Linked DNA regions of Homo sapiens. The protein of the gene in region 1 purifies or fractionates together with the protein of each later gene. This does not show direct contact. Each region holds a gene or a part of one and is shown in the gene's direction. Other genes may lie near its edges.

The links.
Region 2: the proteins of ZNF610 (region 1) and HERC1 purify together in Homo sapiens (affinity purification with mass spectrometry; 2 studies listed by BioGRID and IntAct, with this or other methods). This does not show direct contact.
Region 3: the proteins of ZNF610 (region 1) and TRIM37 purify together in Homo sapiens (affinity purification with mass spectrometry; 2 studies listed by BioGRID and IntAct, with this or other methods). This does not show direct contact.

Annotation. Positions count from the first base shown.
Region 1 is NC_000019.10:52,356,628-52,360,281, forward strand, and holds part of ZNF610 (zinc finger protein 610), read left to right. Parts: intron 1-3,654. UniProt on the Homo sapiens protein: May be involved in transcriptional regulation.
Region 2 is NC_000015.10:63,634,798-63,638,451, reverse strand, and holds part of HERC1 (probable E3 ubiquitin-protein ligase HERC1), read left to right. Parts: coding exon 1-41; intron 42-808; coding exon 809-947; intron 948-2,309; coding exon 2,310-2,491; intron 2,492-3,563; coding exon 3,564-3,654. UniProt on the Homo sapiens protein: Involved in membrane trafficking via some guanine nucleotide exchange factor (GEF) activity and its ability to bind clathrin. Acts as a GEF for Arf and Rab, by exchanging bound GDP for free GTP.
Region 3 is NC_000017.11:59,051,242-59,054,895, reverse strand, and holds part of TRIM37 (E3 ubiquitin-protein ligase TRIM37), read left to right. Parts: intron 1-3,567; coding exon 3,568-3,654. UniProt on the Homo sapiens protein: E3 ubiquitin-protein ligase required to prevent centriole reduplication. Probably acts by ubiquitinating positive regulators of centriole reduplication.

The DNA of each region.
Region 1 (3,654 bases):
TTGAATAGGAGTTTAAATATTTGTTTTCCTTTGTTGTACGTGACTTAGTAGCTACTATTGAACAACACTTTTGCCAATTAAATGTATTACAGTGTATAATATGGAAATTTTTTATATCTTAAGAATATGCTGTTTTAAAATTGTTGCCATCTTAATCTCAGAAATACCATTACACTGACTTGCCGTAATTTGTTATTTAAGACTGAGGGGCAAAACTCAAACCGTATCTTCCTCTGTCTGGTCTTGCACCACGCAACAATAAACACAGACAACTTATGTCACCAAATGTGAGTTTTACTTCCACCAATAAGCAATCAGTTCTGCAGTGGCTACTTGCTGGGGGCCCTTGAATTCTATTCTGATGCTGTGTACCTGGAGAGCGTGTCACATGCCACAGGTTGAGGGCTCAGTCTCCAATACTGCCCCCTTTCAGACACGGGTCATAAGTCCAGGCCTCTGGAACTTTCGACCAACTGGCTTCAAAAGTTGGGGTTCCCATGGCTCCCTCTTTGGGTTTGATTAATTTGCTAGAGTGGTTCACAGATCTCATGGTAATACATACTTAACATTTACAGGGTTTATTCCACAGCGTATTTTAAAGGCTCCAGGCCCGGCATGGTACCTCATATCTGTAACCCAAGAATTTTTGGAGGCTGAGGTGGGCGCATTACTTGATCCCAGGAGTTTGAGACCAGCAACATAATGAGACGTTATCTCTACAAAAAATTAAAAAATTGGCCGGGCGCAGTGGCTCACGCCTGTAATCCCAGCACTTTGGGAGGCCCAGGCGGGCGGATCACGAGGTCAGGAGATCGAGATCATCCTGGCTAACATGGTGAAACCCCGTCTTTACTAAAAATACAAAAAATTAGCCGGGTGTGGTTGCAGACGCCTGTAGTCCCAGCTACTTGGGAGGCTGAGCCCGGAGAATGGCCTGAACCCGGGAGGCGGAGCTTGCAGTGAGCGGAGATGGTGCCACTGCACTCCAGCCTGGGAGATAGAGCGAGCCTCCATCTCAAAAAAAAAAAAAAAAAAAAAAAAAAATTTAAAAAATTAGCCAGGCATGGTAGTACACACCTTGTAGTCCCAGCTACTCAAGAGGACTGCTCGAGCCCAGGAGTTTAAGGCTGCAGTGAGCTATGATCGCGCCACTGCACTGCAGCCTGGCTGACACAGAGCAAGACCTTATTCCAAATAGATAGAGAAGGATAAATTAACAGATGGAAAGAACATAGGGTCAGGTCTGGAAGGGTCCCCAGCACAGGAGCTTCTGTGTCCTGGAGTTGGCTTGTGCCACCCTCCTGGCATGTGTGTGAGTTCCTGCTCACCTTCCTGTCAGCCTCGGGGTGTTCAGCTGTCCAGAAGCTCTCTGAACCCAGTCCTTTTGGGTTTTTATAGAAGCTTTATTATATAATGAAGTTACATGATATAACTTCATTATTTGTCTTTTTGTCTTTGTATGACTGGCTTATTTCACTTACCAGAGTGTCTTTCAGGTTCATCCATTTTGTAGCATATAAAGAAATTTCCATATTTTTTTAGGAACAAAGAATGCTTCTTTTGCTTTCTTTTTTTGAGACGGAGTCCCACTCTGTCGCCGGGCTGGAGTGCGGTGGCGCGATCTTGGCTCACTGCAACCTCTGCCTCCCGGGTTCAAGCGATTCTCCTGCCTCAGCCTCCTGAGTAGCTACAACTACAGGCATGCGCCACCATGCCCAGCTAATTTTTGTGTTTTTAGTAGAGATGAGGTTTTACCATGTTCACCAGGATGGTCTCGATCTCCTGACCTCGTGATCCACCCACCTCAGCCTCCAAAAGTGCTGGGATTATAGGCGTAAGCCACTGCGCCTGGCCTCCTTTTTCTATTTGTTAATCAGGTTACTGGTTTTCTGATTTGTAGGAGTTTTATGTATTTTAGATATATAAAATCTTATCAGAGGTATGATTTGAAAATATTTTCTCACATATGGTAGGTTTCCTTTTCACTCTGGTAATTGTTTTCTTCCATCCACAGTAGTTGTAGGTCTTGTGGTAGTACATTTTATGTATTTTTACCTTCTTTCTTGTGTTATCAGTGTTCTATCCAGGGAAGCATTATTGAATCCAACGTTATGAAGCTTTCCACCTGATTTTTTCTAGGAGTTTTATGGTTTTAGGTCTTAGTTTTAGGTCATGAATTGGCTTTCAGATAATTTTTGCATACGGTGTAATAAGAGTTCAACTTCATTCCTTTCTTGTGGATATCCAGTTTCCTCAGCACTATTTGATAAAGAGACTGTCCTCTCTCGTTACATGGTCTTGGCAGCCTTATTGAACATCATTTGACCAAATATTTGAGGGTTTGTTTCTGGCCTGTCTGTTCTAGTCCATTGGCTTATATGTCTGCCTTCATGGCAGTACAGTTCTATTTTGATGAAGGTAGCTTAGTAATAAGTTTTGTAATCATGCAGTGTAACACCTCCAGCTTTCTTTCTTTCAAGTTTGTTTTGCTATTGAGGCACATGTGTGATTTCATATTAATTTTAGGATGAGTTTATTTATGAAGAAAACTTCCTTGGGATTTTGCTAAAGAGTTCACTGAATCTGTAGATCTCTTTGGCTATTGACATCTTAACCTTAAGACTTACAATCCATAAACATGGGCTGTTTTTGCATTTGTGTGTGTCTTCTCTACTTTGTTTCAGCAATTTTTTGTAGATTTCTGTGTACAAATTTTTCCCGTCCTTGTTAAGCTTATTCCCTCCATATTTGGAGGTTTTGCATCTACAGATTCCACAAAATTGCAGATCAGAAATCCACAGGTCATTGAATCTGCACATATGGATCCCATGGATACGTAGGGCAGACTGTATTTTCAATCCATGGTTAGTTGAATCTGCAGATATAGAAACCACAGGTATGGAAGGCCTGCAGTAAGGAACTCAGGCATCCACAGATTTTGATATCTGAGAGTGTTTTAAGAAAAACTCTCAAACCATGTTTTTCCTCTGCTCTCACGCCACCACAACAATCTGTCAAGACAGAATAAGACTTCCGTGACCGACGGTATAGGAGTTTTTTCCCACACATCAAGCAACGGACAAGAGCTGGGTTTCCTACAGTTCAGTTCTGACACTATACCTGGAGATAGTGTCAGATCCCACGGGTTGAGGGCTCAGTGTCAAAGGCTTCCCCCATTTCCCACCAGTTACGAGTCTGGGCCTCTAGAACTTCTGACCAACTAGCTTCCATTTGTGGTTTCTGTGGCCCCTCTTTGGGCTCGATAAAGTTTCTGGATTGTCTCACAGAACTCACAGAAACACTTACTTACATTTGCCAGTTTATTATAAAGGCTATTGAAAAGGATACAGATGAAGAGACCTGTAGGGCAAGGTATGGGGGAAGGGGTGTGGAGCTTCTCTGCCCTCCCTGCGACCAGCATCCAGGAAGCTCCATGTGTTCAGCCATCTGGAAGCTCTCTAAATGCAGTCCTCTTAGATTTTTATAGAAACCTTATTATGTCAGCATTCTTTCCCCCAGACATAAAGCAGGACCCTCTCTCGGGAGGTCTTAAGACCTATAATCAGAAAGATGGGAGATTAGAGTTCTGCCTTGAGGCAGGTGAATGGAGGGCAGGAAAAGGTTGGAGAGGTTCTGTTTCCTGAGTTCTGCCCT
Region 2 (3,654 bases), on another chromosome or scaffold:
TGGTACCTGCAGCAGCTCCCTCATTCTCACAGGCCCAACAGGTAACTAACAGGATAAAAAATAGAAAAGAAACATGGGAACTGAAAATTCTAATTCTTTTGCTTGTCTTATTGTGGGATAAAGCTTGTCCATTTCATAATCTATTATGAGGAATCATTAAAGAAAGTCATGATATATAGCTTTCAAATAAAAACTTGGTGTGGTTTTTATCAGACTTAAGAAGTTAACAAATTTCTAAATTTTTCTTTCAAGTTTAATGAACTAACATCATGATGTGTTAGGCCTGCCCAGTATGTATTTCTAGCAGTTTAGATACTCCTAATTAGTGATTTTCTCTTTGGGGCTAAAAACTTCCTAGGATCTTTAGCCAGATTTTATCGACCACTCCCCTTTTCTAATAATCCTGGTACGATATAGCGCCAAACCCTTCTCGAGGCCTCTGCTTTCTCTTTTGCTCTTCTTTACCTCAGCTAGTCCAGATTGCATGACTCATTCTTATGTACGAGTTTCTGCTTCTTTCTAGCCCAGTCTTTAATGTTTCCCCATCACCCCTTCCTTTTTCTTTCATCCATTTTGTTGTTCTAAACTATTTTAAATGGATGAATCTCATACATCTCTTGGTTAAATAAGCAGTTTTATAGTCATCAAGGAGTTACGGGACTGCATAGTTATATCAACTCTTCCCTTTCAGTAAAAGGATAAAACAATTATAAAAGCATTCTATGTATACGTGGAATCATTTCAAGTGCTTGCATGTTAAAGCAATATAATAAAGAATAAAATATTTAATTCTGTGTTTTTATACTAGGTCATTTGTGGTCAGAATTGTACCTTTGTCATCCAGGCCAATGGCACAGTGTTGGCTTGTGGGGAAGGAAGTTATGGCAGATTAGGACAAGGAAATTCAGATGACCTTCATGTGCTGACAGTTATTTCAGCCTTACAAGGTAAAATTGTCCTTAATAAAAAGATGGTTAGAACCTAAGGCCTAATGTAGGTTTGGTCGTACAAACCTTTGCCCTTCTCAAACCTTTGCTAGATAAAATCATATCAGGTTTTCACTTACATTTAAATCCTTATTTAGGCATGTGTGCAGCCTTAATTTCCATATTTTAAGCTATATTGCAGGTTACTTATAGCAATGCTAGAATTCAGTGAAATATAAATAACACTTTTTGAGACCCACTGAAGATTGTAAACAAATGCTTAAAAATTGCAAAAGTGTAAGTAGGCAGATGTTAATAGCAGTAGCAATCATGCATGTATTTCATTAAAATTAAAAATCAGTTTATATGGAAATCTGCAAATGTGCTAAAGACTTTAAAGGACATCTTCATCAGAGTTCTTTGTGACTTGGAGAGAGAACACCTTTGGAGAAACCACTGTACAAGCCCCCGGCTTGCTCATTAACTGAACTCATAATGACTCTGAAGCCTACAAAGAGAGCACCGACGGTTTTTTTAGGTAAAAGCATACAAGTAACTATGAGTTCAAAACAAGTTCCTAGAAGCTCAGGTTCTTTTCATTGTGATCTGAGTGTGAAGAGCACAGCAGTAAAGATGAGAATGTGTGCTGGGTTCCTATGGGTTCTACTGGTCCTTGGCTCTGGGACATTGCACAAGCTTCGAGACCTCTTTGTGACTCAGTTTTCCCACTTGTAAAAATGGGATGTTAGTATCTGTTTCATAGGTGCTATGTGAAAGTAGAAAATGAGATAATCCATGTAAAGCATTTATAGGAGTGGCTAGAGCATAGCCAGTCATTAATGACTGTAACTATTGCTGTCATCCTCGTTTTCCTTGTCATCACCATTATTTTAGGTGACTATTCGCAGTTTTGCTAGGTTATGGCTACAAATTCAATTTAAAACTAAAGAAATTAGGCCGGTTACTGTGGCTCATGCCTGTAAACCCAGCGCTTTGGGAGGCCGAGGTGGGCGGATCACTTGAGGTCAGGAGTTCATGACCAGCCTGGCCAGCATGGTAAAACCCTGTCTCTGTTAAAAATACAAAAATTAGCCAGATATGGTGGCACATGCCTGTAATCCCAGCTACTCAGGAGGCTGAGGCAAGAGAATCACTTGAACCGGGGAGGTGGAGGTTGCAGTGAGCCGAGATCACACCACTGCACTCCAGCCTGGATGACAGAGTGAGACTCCATCTAAAAAAAAAAAAAAAACTAATGAAATTATTCTTATTTTCATAGTACCAATTCGGTGGTTTTTGATTGAGGGTATTCAGTAGCAGCTGCAAGTAAAGAGGAGAGTTTTAACATCCAGTGACTCCTGTTGGGTTTCTGTTCTGTTCCAGGCTTTGTGGTGACCCAGCTGGTGACTTCCTGTGGTTCTGATGGGCACTCTATGGCCCTAACTGAAAGTGGTGAGGTCTTTAGCTGGGGAGATGGTGACTATGGTAAACTTGGCCATGGGAACAGCGACAGGCAGCGGCGGCCCAGGCAGATCGAGGCCTTACAAGGAGAAGAAGTGGTGCAGGTCAGGCAGGAAATGGATAAGTTTGCCTTTCATTGTAAATATACTAGTTGTTGAATAGGTTTCTTAAAATTAGGTAACAGAAAATATAGTAAAAATATATTACACAGTAATTATAAGAGATCCATTGGTTTTGGATGTTCAGATTCATTCTTGAGCTTGTCAGAAGTTTGAATAGGCTTTGGTGTTAGTATTGGTCTTGTTAGTATTGGTTAGAATGGTCTTTTTCGTGAGCCAGCTGGTTGGCCCAGACTAGGGTGCTGCACGCCCTTGGAAGGAATATTGTGTGGTTTAACTTCTGCCACACAGTTCTTAATACACAGATAAAAGGAAAACTTTGCTTTTAACCTATCATTTATGTTACAAAAGCTAAGTTAACATGCATTTTCTGGAAAATAGTGTTCTAAAATCATATTGTAAGATTGTATAGCACCTTATAGTTTACAAACAATTTCCCCATTTATTATCTCATTTAGTCTAGGTCATGTGTACACAGCTGAAGAGTAGCAGTAGTTACTCCAGGGTATGCTGTTCAGCTTGGGCTTCCTGAGGCTGTTGAGACAGATCAGACTTGGGAGAGCAGGAGAGCAACTTGGGCAGATAAATGTACCAGTTGGCCAGATGCAGTGGCTTATGCCTGTAATCCTAACACTTTGGGAGGCCAAGGCAAGAGGATTGCTTGAGGCCAGGAGTTTGAGACCAGCCTAGACAACATAGCAAGACCCTGTCTCTACAAAAAATAGAAATAAATAGCCAGGTGTGGTAGCACATGCCTGTAGTCCCAGCTACTTGGGAGGCTGAGGTGGGAGGATTGCTTGAGCCCAGGAGTTTGGGGCTGCAGTGAGCTGTGATCACACCACTGCACTCCAGCCTAGGTGACAGAGCAAGACACTGTCTCTTTAAAATTTAAAAAAAAATTAAAAAAAAAAATTTTTAAAAGCATTGGTCTTTGAAGATCCAGTTTTCAGTGAAGTTTATGTAAAGTTTATTGCTATATTAATACCAAAAATGGCAGATTTACTTTTTTCTTAGTTTCCCTTCTTAAAAATTTTCTTTCTCCTTGGTTCTGTCTTAGATGTCTTGTGGCTTCAAGCACTCAGCAGTGGTCACTTCAGATGGCAAACTGTTCACCTTTGGGAATGGTGACTATGGTCGTCTGGGTCTTG
Region 3 (3,654 bases), on another chromosome or scaffold:
TCAGGAGTTTGAGAGCAGCCTGGCCAATATGGTGAAATCCTATCTCTACTAAAAATACAAAAATTAGCCGGGCTGTGGTGGCACGCGCCTGTAATCCCAGCTACTCAGGAGGCCAAGGCAGGAGAATCGCTTGAATCCGGCAGGTGGAGGTTGCAGTGAACCGAGATTATGCCACTGCACCCCAGCCTGGGCGACATAGCAAGACCCTATCTCAAAAATAATAATAAAGTAAATAAAAACAACAGCCCTGTTTAACGTGGGGTAGTCTTTACAGGTCAGAAGTTTTTGGGCATTGGCTGGGTGCCGTGGCTCACGCCTGTAATCCCAGCACTTTGGGAGGCTGAGGTGGGTGGATCACCTGAGGTCAGGAGTTCAAGATCAGCCTGGGCAACATGGTGAAACCCTGTCTCTACTAAAAATACAAAAATTAGCTGGGCATGGTGGCAGGCACTTGTAATCCCAGCTACTTGGGAAGCTGAGGCAGTTGAATCGCTTGAGTCCGGGAGGCAGATGTTGCAGTGAGCCGAGATTTCACCAGTGCACTCCAGCCTGGGCGACAAGAGTGAAACTCCATCTTAAAAAAACAAAAAACAAACAAAAAAAGGTTTTTGGGTATCATTACATGATGTTATAATTTGATGATCAAAATAAGAACTTGAATATTTAAAAAAGATTAAAATATGTTCTGAACTGAGAAGTTTCAGAGTATTTAACAGTTTAAAAAGTTCTCATCACAACAATTTTAAACATTTTTTTCTTGAGAGTGATTTAATGTACTCCTGAATTTCCCTTATTCGGAGCTCTTTGTTCTTGAGCATACTGGACAGATGAGTTGCTATCATATCAGCATTTACTCTTATGTGTTTTCCGTAGCTTTTCTGGAAGTATAAAGAAGTTTAACAAGGGATATGATTTTCAGTGTAGGGAAAAAGATATGTTTTTGTTATTGTTTTGTTTTGTTTAGAGTCAGTGTCTTGCTATATTGCCCAGTCTAGTCTAGAATTCTCGGGCTCAAGTGATCCTCCTGTCTCAACTTCCCAAGTAGGTAGGATTACAGGTGCATGCCACGGTGCCTGGAATCATGTTTTTTGAGGGGAGGGATTATTTTAGTTTTCTTCGTATAGCTTTTCAGACTTTTGGGGTTTAACTATTCACCAAGAGAAATAATTTATTGCTATTTCATGCTTCAGCCATAGAGAGAATTACAAAATTATTCAAACATCAATTTTACCAACCTATAAAAGACCCATTTTCTTATAGCCTTGATTTCATCCTTATTAGCGTTACTTATTAGTACAGAAACAAATTCCTGTTATGACATCATTTTTTTTAAGCAACATTGAGTCTATACCATATGCCTGACACTGAGTTGCTAATAAGAAAAATATAGACATGGTTTTTGTCCACAGGGAACTCAAGATGAAATTGGCAGATAAAAACAGAATTTACTACTCTCTTATTATAAAATAATGCTATAGTAGCACCGTAAGTAAATTGCTATGAAGTTTGTGGATAGGGGGCTTCACATTATCCTATTAATGAGACATTGCTCAAACTTTAAACCTTTTATTTCAAGATTCTGGTGGAATTTTGTATGTATTTATTAGAAAGTTATTTAAGGCTTTTCTATAACTATGAATGTATGTTTCATTCTTTCATTAAAACAGAAAGTTAAGAAATTTTACCTGCTGCTTGGTTTTGTTTTAATGGCAAAATATTAGAACTAATGTGCAGAGTTAACCAGTGGTTTAAATCATTCAAAGAAAATAATAGTGTTTAGACGGTCTTACTTTAATGTCTTACCAGTGGGTACTTCCTAGACTGTGAATCGTCTCTGCTCAGTTGAGTGAATCATCTCTACTCAGTTCCGTTCAGAACGTAATTTAATCTCTTGATTTGATTTGATTTGATTTGATTTGATTTGATTTGATTTGATTTTTTGAGACAGAGTTTCGCTCTGTTGCCCAGGCTGGAGTGCAGTGGTGCGATCTCGGCTCACTGCCACCTTTGCCTCCCAGATTCAAGCGATTCTCCTGCCTCAGCCTCCTGAGTAGCTGGGATTACAGGCGCCCGCCACCATACCCGGCTAATTTTTGTACTTTTAGTAGAGACGGGGTTTCACCATGTTGGCCACGCTGGTCTCGAACTCCTGACCTTAGGTGATCTGCCCACCTCGGCCTCCCAAAGTGCTAAGATTACAGGTGTGAGCCACTGTGCCCGGCCAATCTCTCTCTTTTTTTAATACTCAAGTTCTCATTTTGATCATCCAGTTATAACATATAATGATGCCCAAAAACTTCTGACCTATAAAGACTATCCCAACATTAAATAGGACTGTTGTTTTATAGTCAGTGTTTATGTTCTGTCCTTTCTTGCATTAGTATTCTTCACTAAAACTAGATATCTACTGCCAGATAACTGTTAAATGGTCAGTAGGTTCTTACAATAAGGTGTAAAATCCTAGAAAAAAATGAACAGCTAACATTGTGTAGCCGGGTAAAAGGGCTGGAAGGAATGAGAGAGATGTAGATGTCCAAATTAGTCTTGCCTTGTGGTTTTTCCTTTCTTCAAAAACACCTTCACACATGCACTGCAATTTTTTCACCTTAAATATAGTCACGTTAGGCTATGTAACAAAGGTAGAGGTTTGTTTGCTTTAGTAATAGTTTTTTTTTTTTTTTTAATTAAAACAACTCTGGATAGATTAAGATTCTGTCATTTATATATTAATACGATTTTATGTAGGTGCAGTACTTTTTTTCCTAACCTAAGCTGAAATAATGCCATATTGTAATAAGGGCAGTTTTGATTGCTATCTTGAAGGGTTCAGGATATAGTTTATTTAGAGCATGTAACTCCTTGGGGGATAGTAAAGCAATCCTGGGTGGTTGAGCCAGGAAGTGATTTTTTTTCTGAGGGGCAGGAAATACGGGAACGTGAGATGGAATAGAGAAATATAAAGAGCAGCACTTAAAACTTTGTATTTTGCTACAAAAAATTAGCCGGGCGTAGTGGCGGGCGCCTGTAGTCCCAGCTACTTGGGAGGCTGAGGCAGGAGAATGGCGTGAACCCGGGAGGTGGAGCTTGCAGTGAGCCGAGATCCCGCCACTGCACTCCAGCCTGGGCGACAGAGCGAGACTCCGTCTCAAAAAAAAAAAAAACTTTGTATTTTGCTGGGGCCTCATTTAGGGAAGAAAGGGATAAGAGTTATCTTCCTCCTTATAGGAGGAAACTGCATAGTATATGGCTCTCTTCTTCCCAACTCATGATCATCATTGTATTTTAGTTACATTATTATAATAAATATGCCTGAGTAGGTTAGTTTGGGAAGCTTAACTACAATGTACAATGTTATTTCTTTAGAAAGGTAGTTTGAGGACAACTGGCTTTTCAGAACCTTGTGTCATAATCTGTGGACTACATCTATAAACAACAAATACTAGCAGCTCTAAGTTTATGTGAATTTTGGCCTTATAATCAAGTTAACCCAAATTGCAGAATTCAGTGCTAGACTGATAATGTTTTACTATTTGAATTTTTTTTTTAATGTGGCACAATTCTTTTAAGGTTTCAGGTACGTTCACCAACTTTCTTTCAAAAATCCCGGGACCAGCATTGGTACATTACTCAGTTGGAAGCTGCACAGACTAGTTA